Linked DNA regions of Homo sapiens: region 2 is linked to region 1. The links come from fine-mapping of genetic effects on gene expression. A gene starts in region 1. The other region holds a variant in brackets. All regions are shown on one strand. Distances are between the middles of the regions.

What was found. PIP is the estimated chance that this variant, and not a neighbour inherited with it, causes the effect.
Region 2: its variant is fine-mapped to the expression of ABCC4 in whole blood (INTERVAL, PIP above 0.99).

What each region holds. Positions count from the first base shown.
Region 1 is chr13:95,299,193-95,304,561 of GRCh38, forward strand. ABCC4 (ATP binding cassette subfamily C member 4 (PEL blood group)) reads right to left here and starts at 2,259. Exons shown (of 31, transcript NM_005845.5): 1 at 2,049-2,259. The coding sequence starts at 2,122. It overlaps LOC102724149 (a long non-coding RNA gene), which reads left to right and starts at 1,759. Exons shown (of 3, transcript XR_429273.4): 1 at 1,759-2,071; 2 at 2,754-3,134. RefSeq lists enhancers at 542-601, 2,204-2,978 and silencers at 1,795-2,434, 2,465-2,524, 2,705-2,764.
Region 2 is chr13:95,243,603-95,248,971 of GRCh38, forward strand. ABCC4 (ATP binding cassette subfamily C member 4 (PEL blood group)) reads right to left here. Exons shown (of 31, transcript NM_005845.5): 2 at 4,041-4,151; 3 at 3,373-3,493. Among named protein-coding and RNA genes, the nearest start is that of SNORD13G, 36 kb to the left of the region's middle. RefSeq lists an enhancer at 1,371-1,450. The variant C/T (reference allele first, on the strand shown) is at 2,655.

The DNA of each region.
Region 1 (5,369 bases):
AGGCTGCAGCAAGCTATGAATGTGTCACTGCCCTCCAGCCTGGGTCACAGCTTGCACAAAGCAAGATCCTGTCTCAAAAAAAAAAAAAAAAAGTTCCTTGCCCTGCCTGAAGTTGAGGAGACCATTTGTCTACCTCAAGTTATTATTTGCAGAAACCACACCCATATTCCTTCCTCCTCCACGTGCCCCTCTCCTTAAGAGAAAGGCCGCCAAACAACCAAGAGAAGTTCCTACACCCACTGAGTGTACCACAATCGAAACAAGAGTAAGCGACTCATCCTCTTGGAATCCCCTAGGTCAAGCTTGTCCAACCTGAGGCCCATGGGCTGCCAAATTCGTAAGCTTTCTTAAAACATCAGATTTTTTTTTGCGATTTTTTTTTAGCTCATCAGCTATCATTAGTGTTAGTGTATGATTAGTGTTAGTGTATTTTATGTATGGCCCAAGACAATTCTTCCAGTGTGGCCCAGGGAACCCAAAAAATTGGAGACCCCCACCCTAGGTTGTCCCATAATAAAAGGCAATATCAACATGTGGGAAAGATGAGGCGGCAGAGGTCAAGAAACAGAAGATCTAATAATCATCCAAGTGAGATTGAAGCCCTTCAAAGGTTCAGGCTTATGTAGTTAGCAGACGGAATTCCCCCACACACACCCGCCACTCCCCCAAGACGGAGTCTCACTCTGTCACCCAGGCTGGAGTACAGTGGGGCGATCTCAGCTCACTGCAACCTCCGCCTACTGGGTTCAAGCAATTCCCCTGCCTCAGCCTCCTGAGTAGCTGGGATTACAGGCGTGCTCCACCACACCCGGCTAATTTTTGTATTTTTAGTAGAGACGGGGTTTCACCATGTCAGCCAGGCTGGTCTCGAACTCCTGACCTCGTGATCCACCCACCTCTGCCTCCCAAAGTGCAGGGATACAGGCGTGAGCCACCGCGCCAGGCCAAGATGGAAATTTTAGTTACTACTGTCACCCGAGTCTTTCTCCGTTTGTTTCCTTGCACAAAATGGGTAGGGCTGTGGGCCCTCCCAGCTCAGGAGCCCTGGGGTGGTTTTAAGAAGGTAGAACTCCTGGTAGGAACCACCTGCATCAAGACCATGGATCACCTCTCTGAAGGTTAGCGATTCCAGGGACCCCACCTCCGAGCTGTCCTCCTACGTGGAAGTGAAAGTATTGGAAACAGGGGAAAGAAGCTGGTCAAAGACAGACTCCAGTCGTGGCGGTGCATGTCCCAGTTAAAAGCAAATCCTGGAAAATCTTGTTCAAGAACAGGGTCCCCATTCATAAATGAAAAATAATAATAGTGTTATTTTACCCACATGAAACTTGCCATAACTAGGTACCACGACCCACATGGACACACAGTGAGATTCCCACAAAGAGGCAAAAGGAGAGCCCTGGTCACTGAGACAAAAGATACAGAGACACCGGGACACAGAGAGGTACAACGGGACGTGGAGTTGGATCGAGCTGTCTCGTAAGGAATATCGGAAGGGGTGGGGACACTACTGGGAGATGGCATAGGTCCAGGACACTAATTAGGCTTTGGCTGAGATCAGATAAAGGAAACTGTTCGTAAGCTGCTTACTTAAAAAGAAAGGAAAAGGTGCGTTTGAGTTCAGGAGACTGCGAGTCCCAGAGCAGGAGGCGGGAGCCAGCGAAGGGTGGGCGTGTAAGGGGTGCAGTCGCTTCTCCCGCTGGGCAAGAGACTCCCCCTTTCGGCAGCCTGGGTTCCCCGCCTCCCCACCTCCTGCTCCTCCTCCCCCGAGCCCTAAGGGCCCGCAGGGCCTCCAGTAGCAAAGCCACTGGCCCCGCGTCCCCGCGTCCCCCTGCGCCGCGCCCCGGGGCGCAGGCAGGGACCACGCGGCCGGCGTGGGGGCGGCGCCACCCGCAGCAGAAAGCCCCGGCGTGGACCGCGTGGCGTAGGAAAGCGCTCCCCTCGCCCCCAGCCGCAGAGGGCTTGGGCAGCATCGGGCGCGGCCCCGGGAGAGTGCGTCCGCGGCGCCAGCGGCTGCAGGGTGACCTGTTTCGGGCGGGGACACTCACCAGAAGAACACGCGTGAGCAGAGGTTCGCGTCCTGCAGCGGGTTGGGCTTCACCTCCTGGTACACGGGCAGCATCTTGCCGGGCGGGGCGGGCGCGGGCCGGGGTCGCGCTGATCAGGCGGCGGTGGCCGCGGGCTCCGCTCCTGGACCTCAAGCAGGGATGCTGGGGCTCCGGCCGCCACGCCTGTCCGCTCGGCTGGAGCCTGTGAAGCAGCCGCTTCCGGGAGCCGGGCGCCGGCGGCACGCCCCGTCCCCGCCTCTCAGGCCCGCCGCCTCGGGGGCGCCCGCTACGCGCCGCCGCCTGGAGCCCGGGAGCTGCGCACCGCGTGCGAGCGCGGCCGGGACCGACGGGTGACGCGGCGGGAGGAGACGCGGCGGGAGGAGGCGAAGCTGGCGACGCCAAAGGGAGCCCAGAGCTACGCCCAGGGGTGAGGCGAGGGCCGCCTGCGCCGCTGGATGGAGAGGGTAGCAGAGCGCGCGGCAAGGAGGCCGGGTCCGGAGGTGCCCACGTGCACGAACCCGAGTGAAACTTTCCGAAATTCACTATCCGAGTCTAGGCGCCGACACAGAAGGTGGAGCAGGGAGGCGTCGGCTGTGCCCGCCCCTGCGCCGCAGAAACGCCCCCTCGGCTACGGGTTTGGGAAGACTGGGAGACAGCTGCCTCGTGCTCTAGCAGCCCGCCCCCTGGGCGCCTTTCCCTTCTCAGGACCAAACGACGGTGCCATGGGAGGCTCTTCAACCTGTGAGCCAAACATTTGACCTTGGACGACAGCAAAGTTTAGCCACAGATTATCCTTGTAGAGCTGCAAGACCTCAAGAAAGCCGGGTAACTCGAGAGTATGACCCAGATGAATTCGGGAGATGGATGAATGCTGTCGTCGATGGGGGCGGGCTTTAGGCATCTCACATGTTGCATGCTACGGTGGACCTCTGAGCTTTTTGCTGCCCCCTTAGATTGGGAAAGGAATATAAGAGGAAAGAGAGACTGCCTGATGATTTCTGTCGTCAAGCCCTAAAGCCTAACAGATAACAGTGGCAAACGACACGTGGGTTCCAGAATACCAGTGATGTTCATGTGCATTTCTGAGTGCGTAGCCTCACTAGTGTGTGTGTGTGTGTGTGTGTGTGGCAGTCTCACACACAGTGTCACGATTATGGCTCATTGCACCCTCGACCTCCCAGGGCTCAAGCAATCCTCCCAACTCAGTTTAAGTAGCTAGGACTACAGGCACCCGCCACCACACCCGGCTCATATTTTGTAATTTTTGTAGAGATGCAAAAATCAAAATCAAAGGCTCCAAGTTCAAATACTGATAATTTTTGAAGCCAAATGATTGTCATGGAGGTTTATTTTCTTCATATTTCATGCATGTTTGAGAATTTGGTTTTCTTTGTAATAAGATCATTTTATTGTTCCTTGATAATTTCTCACTTTGTTGCCCAGGCTGGTCTCAAACTCCTAGGCTCAAGTGATCCTCCCACCGTGGCCTCCCAAAGTGCTAGGATTACAGGCATGTACCACCACGCCCGACCAATTATCTCACTTTTAATTCTATCAGTGCCCCATTCAAGGTTATCCTTACTTTATAGATGAGGAAGGTGAAGCTGAAAGGCAGAACTTGTCCAGTCTTAGAGCCAAGAAAGGATAAAACATGATTTGCAATAAGCCTATGTCTAAGCATGGCCTGTCTCCCTGGTGGATGGCCAGTGTGCATGAGAAGTGCCCAGAATATGCTGGTTGAATGGCTGTAGGAATGAATGAACAAAATCTTGTTCCAAGCTTGTGTACTCCCACCTCTAAGTCTTCAGTCATTTCTGTGGCTACCTTAACAAGGTCAGCAGCTGCTCTTCATATCCACCCTGAATGAAAAAAAATGAAAGGCTCCAAGTTCATGGTGCTTGGAACAAGATCATTTTATTGTTCCTTGATAATTTCCCATGTATATTTGCTAAAATAGTATAGTTAATAGCTTTTAAAGAAAGCCTTACACAAACACATATTTAAAAGTCAAGCACAGGCTAGCCAGCATAGTGAGGCTCTGTCTCTACCAAAAGTTTTAAAAATTAGCCCAGGTGTGGTGGCGTACCCTTGTAGTCCCAGCTACTCGAGAGGCTGAGACAGGAGGATGGCTTTAGCCCAGGAGTTCCAGGCTACAAGGAGTTAAGAAGGTGCCCACTGGGCTGGGCACAATGGCTCACGCCTATAATCCTAGCACTCTGGGAGGCTGAGGCAGGTGAATCACCTGACGTCAGGAGTTCGAGACCAGCCTGGCCAACATGGTGAAACCCCATCTCTACTAAAAATACAAAAAATTATCTGGGTGTGGTGGTGGATGCCTGTAATCCCAGCTACTCAGGAACCTCAGGCAGAAGAATCACTTGAACCCAGGAGGCGGAGGTTGCAGTGAGCCGAGATCATCCCACTGCACTCCAGCTTGGCAACAAGAGTGAAACTCCGTCTCAAAAAAAAAAAGAAGGTGCCACTGCACTCCAGGCTGTACAAGCCCATAATCCCAGCACTTTGAGAGGTGGAGACAGGAGGATTGCTTTAGCCCGGGAGTTCTAGACCAGCCTGGGCAACATAGGGAGACCTCATCTCCACTAAAAATGTGAAAATTAGATGGGCATGGTGGAGTAAGTCTGTAGTCCCATGTAACCTGGAGGCTCAGGTGGGAGGATTGCTTGAGCCCAGGAGTTCTAGACCAGCCTGGGCAACAAAGGGAGACCTCATCTCTACTAAAAATGTAAAAATATGATGGGTGTGGTGGCGTGAGTCTGTAGTCCCAGCTGGAGGTTCAGGTGGGAGGATTGCTTAAGCCCAGGAGTTGGAGGCTACAGTAGGCTATGATCACACCACTGCCCTCCAGCCTGGGCTAAAGAGTGAGACTCTGTCTCAAAAAAAAAAAAAGTCAAGCACATAAGAATGGCAAAATATTGATAATTTTTGAAGCCAAATGATGTGTCATAGGGGTTTATTTTCTTACATTTCATGCATGTTTGAGAATGGTTTTCTTTTTGGAGATGGGCTCTCAGTATGTTGCCCAGGCTGGACTCAAGCTGCTGGGCCCAAGGGATCCTCCTGCCTCAACCCCTCCAAGTACCTGGGATTGTAGGCACTCGCCAGCATACCAGCTCATGTTTCAGAATTTCTGTCACAAAAAGGAACACAATATTTTAAGTTGACTACTGTGGGAAAGCTATGATCATTCAATAACCTACCTTTCTGATAGCTCTTTCTCAGATAATATAAGCTATAAACCAAAATAGTCAGCCTTCACCTGATTTACAGTGCCCTTTGAAACTTCCTAAGTTTTCTAGCCCA
Region 2 (5,369 bases), 56 kb before region 1:
TCAGCCAGGCACAGTGGCTCACACCTGTAATCCCATTAATTTGGGAGGGCGAGGTGGGCCGATGGCTTGAGCTCAGGAGTTCTAGACCGGCCCGGACAACATGGTAAAACCTCATCTCTACTAAAAATACAAAAAATAAGCCAGGCATGGTGCATGCCTATAGTCACAGCTACTCAGGAGGCTGAGGTGGGAGGATTGCTTGAGCCCAGGGAGATGGAGGTTGCAGTGAGCTGAGATCACACCACTGCACTCCAGCCTGAGTGACAGAGTGAGACCCCACCTCAGACGAAAACATAAAAAAAAAAAAAGAGTTCGTGGTCAACCTGAATGTACCTTGGTGCTCTGACCTGCCCAGCACCCCAGCCACTCTCTAGCATGTCACCTGACTTTCCGGCACCAGGACACCTAGGAACCTAGGGTAATTTATAATCCCCAATCTGATTTCCCACAGCCATGCCCCACTGTTCCAGGGAGCTCTTAGCATCTGACTTATCCCTAGGCCAAGTTCAAGAAGCATGTGCTGGATACTCTGAAGACAGAGTTCTCAAGACACCTTTACGACAGTCTGGAGATGGTTAGGTCCCTAAGTCAGCGCTCCTGAGACTGAATCTGGGCTCTGTCATTTACACTTTGTGTGGCCCTAGGCACATTATATAACTACATGGCACCCAGTGTCCTCTTCCCAAAAGTAGGGTTAAAAGAATGCCTTCTGACTGAGCATGGTGATTCCTGCCTATAATCCCAGCACTTTGAGAGGCCAAGGTGGGAGGATCATTTGAGCCCAGGAGTTCAAGACCAACCTGGGCAACATAGTGAAACAAAAATACAAAAATTAACCAGGCATGGTGGCGTGCACCTGTGGTCCTAGCTACTTGGGAGGACTGCTTGAGCCCAGTAGGCCAAAGCTGCAGTGAGCCAAGATAGCACCACTGCACTCCAGCCTGGCAACAGAGTGAGACCCTATCTCAAAAAACAAAATAAAATAAAATAACATGAAAGAAAGAAAGAAAGAAAGAAAGAAAGAAAGAAAGAAAGAAAGAAAGAAAGAAAGAAAGAAAGAAAGAAAGAAATCATAGCAGTTCCTGGTACATAGTATTTTTCAAGTACTCACTGTCAGTATTATTACAACTATTGCTACTATCACTGCTGCTGCTACTACTACTACTGAGTACCAACCACTACTAATCCTGCTGCTGCTTCTACTAGCACTGCTGCTGCTAAGCAGTACTGAGCATGAGCCCCCATATTTGCCAGGTCCTCCACTCCCTACTTTTCTGCCATGACTGCCCAATAACCACCCCGCTAAAAGACCAGCTCTCCACCAACTGTACCCATATTAAAGCTCCCCTCGATCCGGGCCCCTTCCCACATGCCCACCAGCAGTAAAGATTACCATGCTCCTTGCACCAGAGTGGGGCCTGTCCTCAAGTCTCAGGAGAAATTCACGCTTCTACAGCCTCTACTTCTGTGCCTGCTTCTCCCAAAAGCTTACCCAAATCTCACTGTAGTCCAGTCACCATCTGTGGGTTAGAGACCCCACCCCAAGTGGCTGGCAGCCCATGACAGCATGGACAGCCCTGAGCATGACAAGCTCAGTTCCTTCTAAATCATCCTGTTTTCAATTTCATAAGCAGCTGGTGACAAAGGGAAACTAGAGAAATGGAAGTAGCTGAGGGAGGCATGCCTCGAAACCTATGTGAGGCCATTGATTCCCACTACACCTAACCAGACACCTGGCATGAGCCTTAGACACTTACAGAGGCTCCATGGCTACCAGACAACTTCTCTGAGGTTGCACAGCCAAACTGGGCCAGGAAATCCTGCACACACTGGCCACATTGACACCGACTTGTCATTCTATTTCTTTCCAACTGAAACTGATCGGGGCCATGTGGAAACACTATCGCTGGGACACCCCAGCACAGGTTGAAGAGGGGCTGGGAGAACCTGAGGGGCTCCTAGCCCTCTTCCACCCTCAAGTCAGTTCCACCGGTTATTCTGCATGTCCACCCCATCTGCCACAAAGCCACAGTAGCATGCAGGCAGGGCGGGTACCCTCTCAAAGGTGGCATTCACCATCTGGCACCCTGGCCAAAACACCTTTGTCACCAATGAGACCATTCATCTCCCAGGACCGTCCAGTCCCCTGTTGTCTGACAGATTCCTCTGGTGTAGGGCAGAGCTCACCTACCTGCCTCCCACTGCCCACCGTGCCCTCCACAACAAAAAGCATGTTCAACAGGAGCAAACCCCCCCACATACAAACCAACCCCCTCCCCCCACCCACCTCATTCCCAACAAAATGCACCGTGACAACTCCCCATCCTGCATTTAAAGCCACCCTTTTGTAACAACAGCAACATCCACCCCTCTAACTTTAATGGACCACTGACATCCCTAAGGTAGCACAGAGGACACAAGTCACCCAGCAGGACCCTCTGCATCTCCTCTAGCAGGCCAAAGACCAGAACGGACAAGCTACCTGGCAGTGTGCCTAGGCAGAACACTGTCTTTCTGCAGATCTCAAGAGAGGCCCTTCGGGGTAACAGAGGTTATTGCCCTTCTGGCTGTCTTTGATTTTTCATGGAATGTCCATTTATACATTCTCTGCAGGGCCAGGCACCAAGACTCTACCTTCCAACCAGCAATCCACT[C/T]CGACAACAAGGAAGACACACCGGATGGGTGTGATGAATCCCCTTGGGTGCACAGTCCTCGGACCTTCTTCCCAGAGGGGATTTTGGCTCCCAGCACCTGGGCCCACTGGGAGGGGGTAGCTCTTGGGTGCTTCAGCCAGCTCCAGCCTCTGGGGCACCACCGCCAGCCCAGGTGCAAGGCCCTCAGCTCTGTTTCCCCGAGAGGGGAGAGGTGACAATACCTCTCCAGAAGAGCAATTATCAGATTTGGCTTGGTGAACAATTATTTGTTGAGCACCTGTAAAATGTCTTACATTATTCTGGGCTCCGATCCAAAATCACTTCCTCTAAACCACAGGGCACGCACTCCTCAAGGCTGTAGGATCCTCTTTTGACCAGGAGTGACTCTTAGCATTTAAAACATTTACCGAGCACCAACATTGTCCTACCATAGAATAAAATACTCTTCTTCCATGACACTGCATTTTAATTGGTTACAAGAAAAACAATAATGACCTTGAACTTCAGTCACTTAAGTATTCACCTGGATAAATACGCTCACTGAACTAACTACCTAATACTTCCTAGACATGTTTAATCCTTAGACCTTAAAATACCTTCAAACCCCATCTGGCCACTTCTCCCTTCTGTTCCCCCATCCATTACAGCACCAGTCAATGGCGAGCACATTTACTCTATGTGTCCTGAAAAACAATTCATGGTATGTAAAAGCTTTTACCTCAATTAACGTAAAAATTCCCAAAACTAAATAAGATTTCCAGTAACACTTTATGATTGCTCTTGTTAAAGAAGGCTTCTGTGCGTCATTCTCAGCTCTTAAAACTTCTTTATCCCAGAACCTACAATGAGGAAAAAGCTTCGTAAATAAGAGTGAACCCTGCCACAATATAAAACAGGGGAGATGGCAGAGTGACAGGTATGCATTTAAGACAGGGCATTTTGTGACGATTTCATAAATGCTACTAATTGCTCCCAGGGCTCCTGAAGGTTATGTGTGGTACAGAATCTGGAGCATCAGAAAAACAGGCCTTGAGGGGAAGTCTGGGGAAACAAGTTACTGCCAAGCTTTACTGGATTGAAGCCCCATCAGTAGCACAGATAAGCCAGACAACCTCCTCCAACCACAACACTTCCACCTAGAGGGACAGACCTCAGGCATCTCGGGCCTTTGGTGCTGGCTCCCCTGACCTCTACGGAGGCACAGGCAACAGGAGTTTCCCCCAGGCCACCATGGTAGGCTGAGCCTAGGGGCAGCCTGAGGAAGGTGACACATATTCACCTTAAGGGTAAACGGAGGCTCCAGACAGGACCCAGGAAGGCAAAACCCACTCCCCACACACAGACACCCACGCTTCCTTAATGCCCACTTTACTGCCTCCGACTTACCCTTGCAACTCCTCTCCAAGGTGCTGTGAGCGGTCTTCTGGCAGCACTGAATACATATCATCTTCCTCTAATCTCCGTTTATGGCCAATTTTAAACAAGGGATTGAGCCACCTGTTAACAAGAGAAAAGAGACATATATCCAGAATTACACATCCGTGTTTAAGTAGACTCCTACCTCCATGGGTTTTGCTTAAACTTACCTTTAAAATACATACAGCTATATATAGACAGACAGATATGAATATATAGAGCTAGAGAGAGAAAAGTTAACATGTGCACACACACACACACACACACAGTCCCTAGCTCTATCCACAGACAGGCCCCAGAAGCAATGACACACCAGTAGCTGAGAGCATGCTGGTGCCCAGATCTTGGTTTCCAAAACCATTATTATCTAAAAGGAACCAGAGCTTCCTGAAGAAATAGCTGATTCAAAGGCTGGGGCAGAAAAAGATGGCCCATGAGATACCATACGATAAGGAAACATTCAAGGAATCAAGAGGATGGGCCCAAAGAACAGAGGACCCAGCTTGACGGGGTCCCACTAGACAAGTCTGTGATAATGGAAGCATCCAAATAAATCATGACAGCAATGAATTCTAACCCACTGAATAACAAAAGAATCCACGAATCCTTACTGAGACATAAATGGGGTAAGAAGGAAAAACTCTCAGATAAAGAATGATGAGGTTAGAAAACATTTTCAATGGGAGCTAAAACCAGTCAGTGAAGGTTTGATGGGACATTTACATAATCCAAAATTATCTAGGTACAAATTATTTATTAGTTACGAAAGGACAAAATAGTAATCTTGCAGAGGACAGAAAGAACTTATTCAAATATTTTGAGATTCTTTTTACTAAAAAAAAAGAAAAATCAAAATGGTCATCCATTAGGAATCACTTAAATGATATTAACATTATTAATCATTAAATGATAATAATTAACATCATTAATCATTAAATGATAATAATTAACATGCACCAGGCATAGTGGCTCACACCTGTAACTCCAGAGCTTTGGGAGGCTGAGGAGGGAGAATGGCTTGAGCCCAGGAGTTTGAGACCAGCCTACACAACATAGTGAGATGCCCACTTCTACTAAAAACTTATAAAGAAAAAGGCTGGGCAGTGGCTCATGCCTGTAACCCCAGCACTTTAGGTGGCTGAGGTAGGCGGATCACTTGAGGCCAGAAGCTCGAGACCAGCCCGGCAAAACCCCATCTCTAGTAAGAAAATATAAAAATTAGCGAGGTGTGATGACACATGCCTGTAATCCCAGCTACTCGGGAAGCTGCGGCACAAGAATCACTTGAGCCTGGGAGGC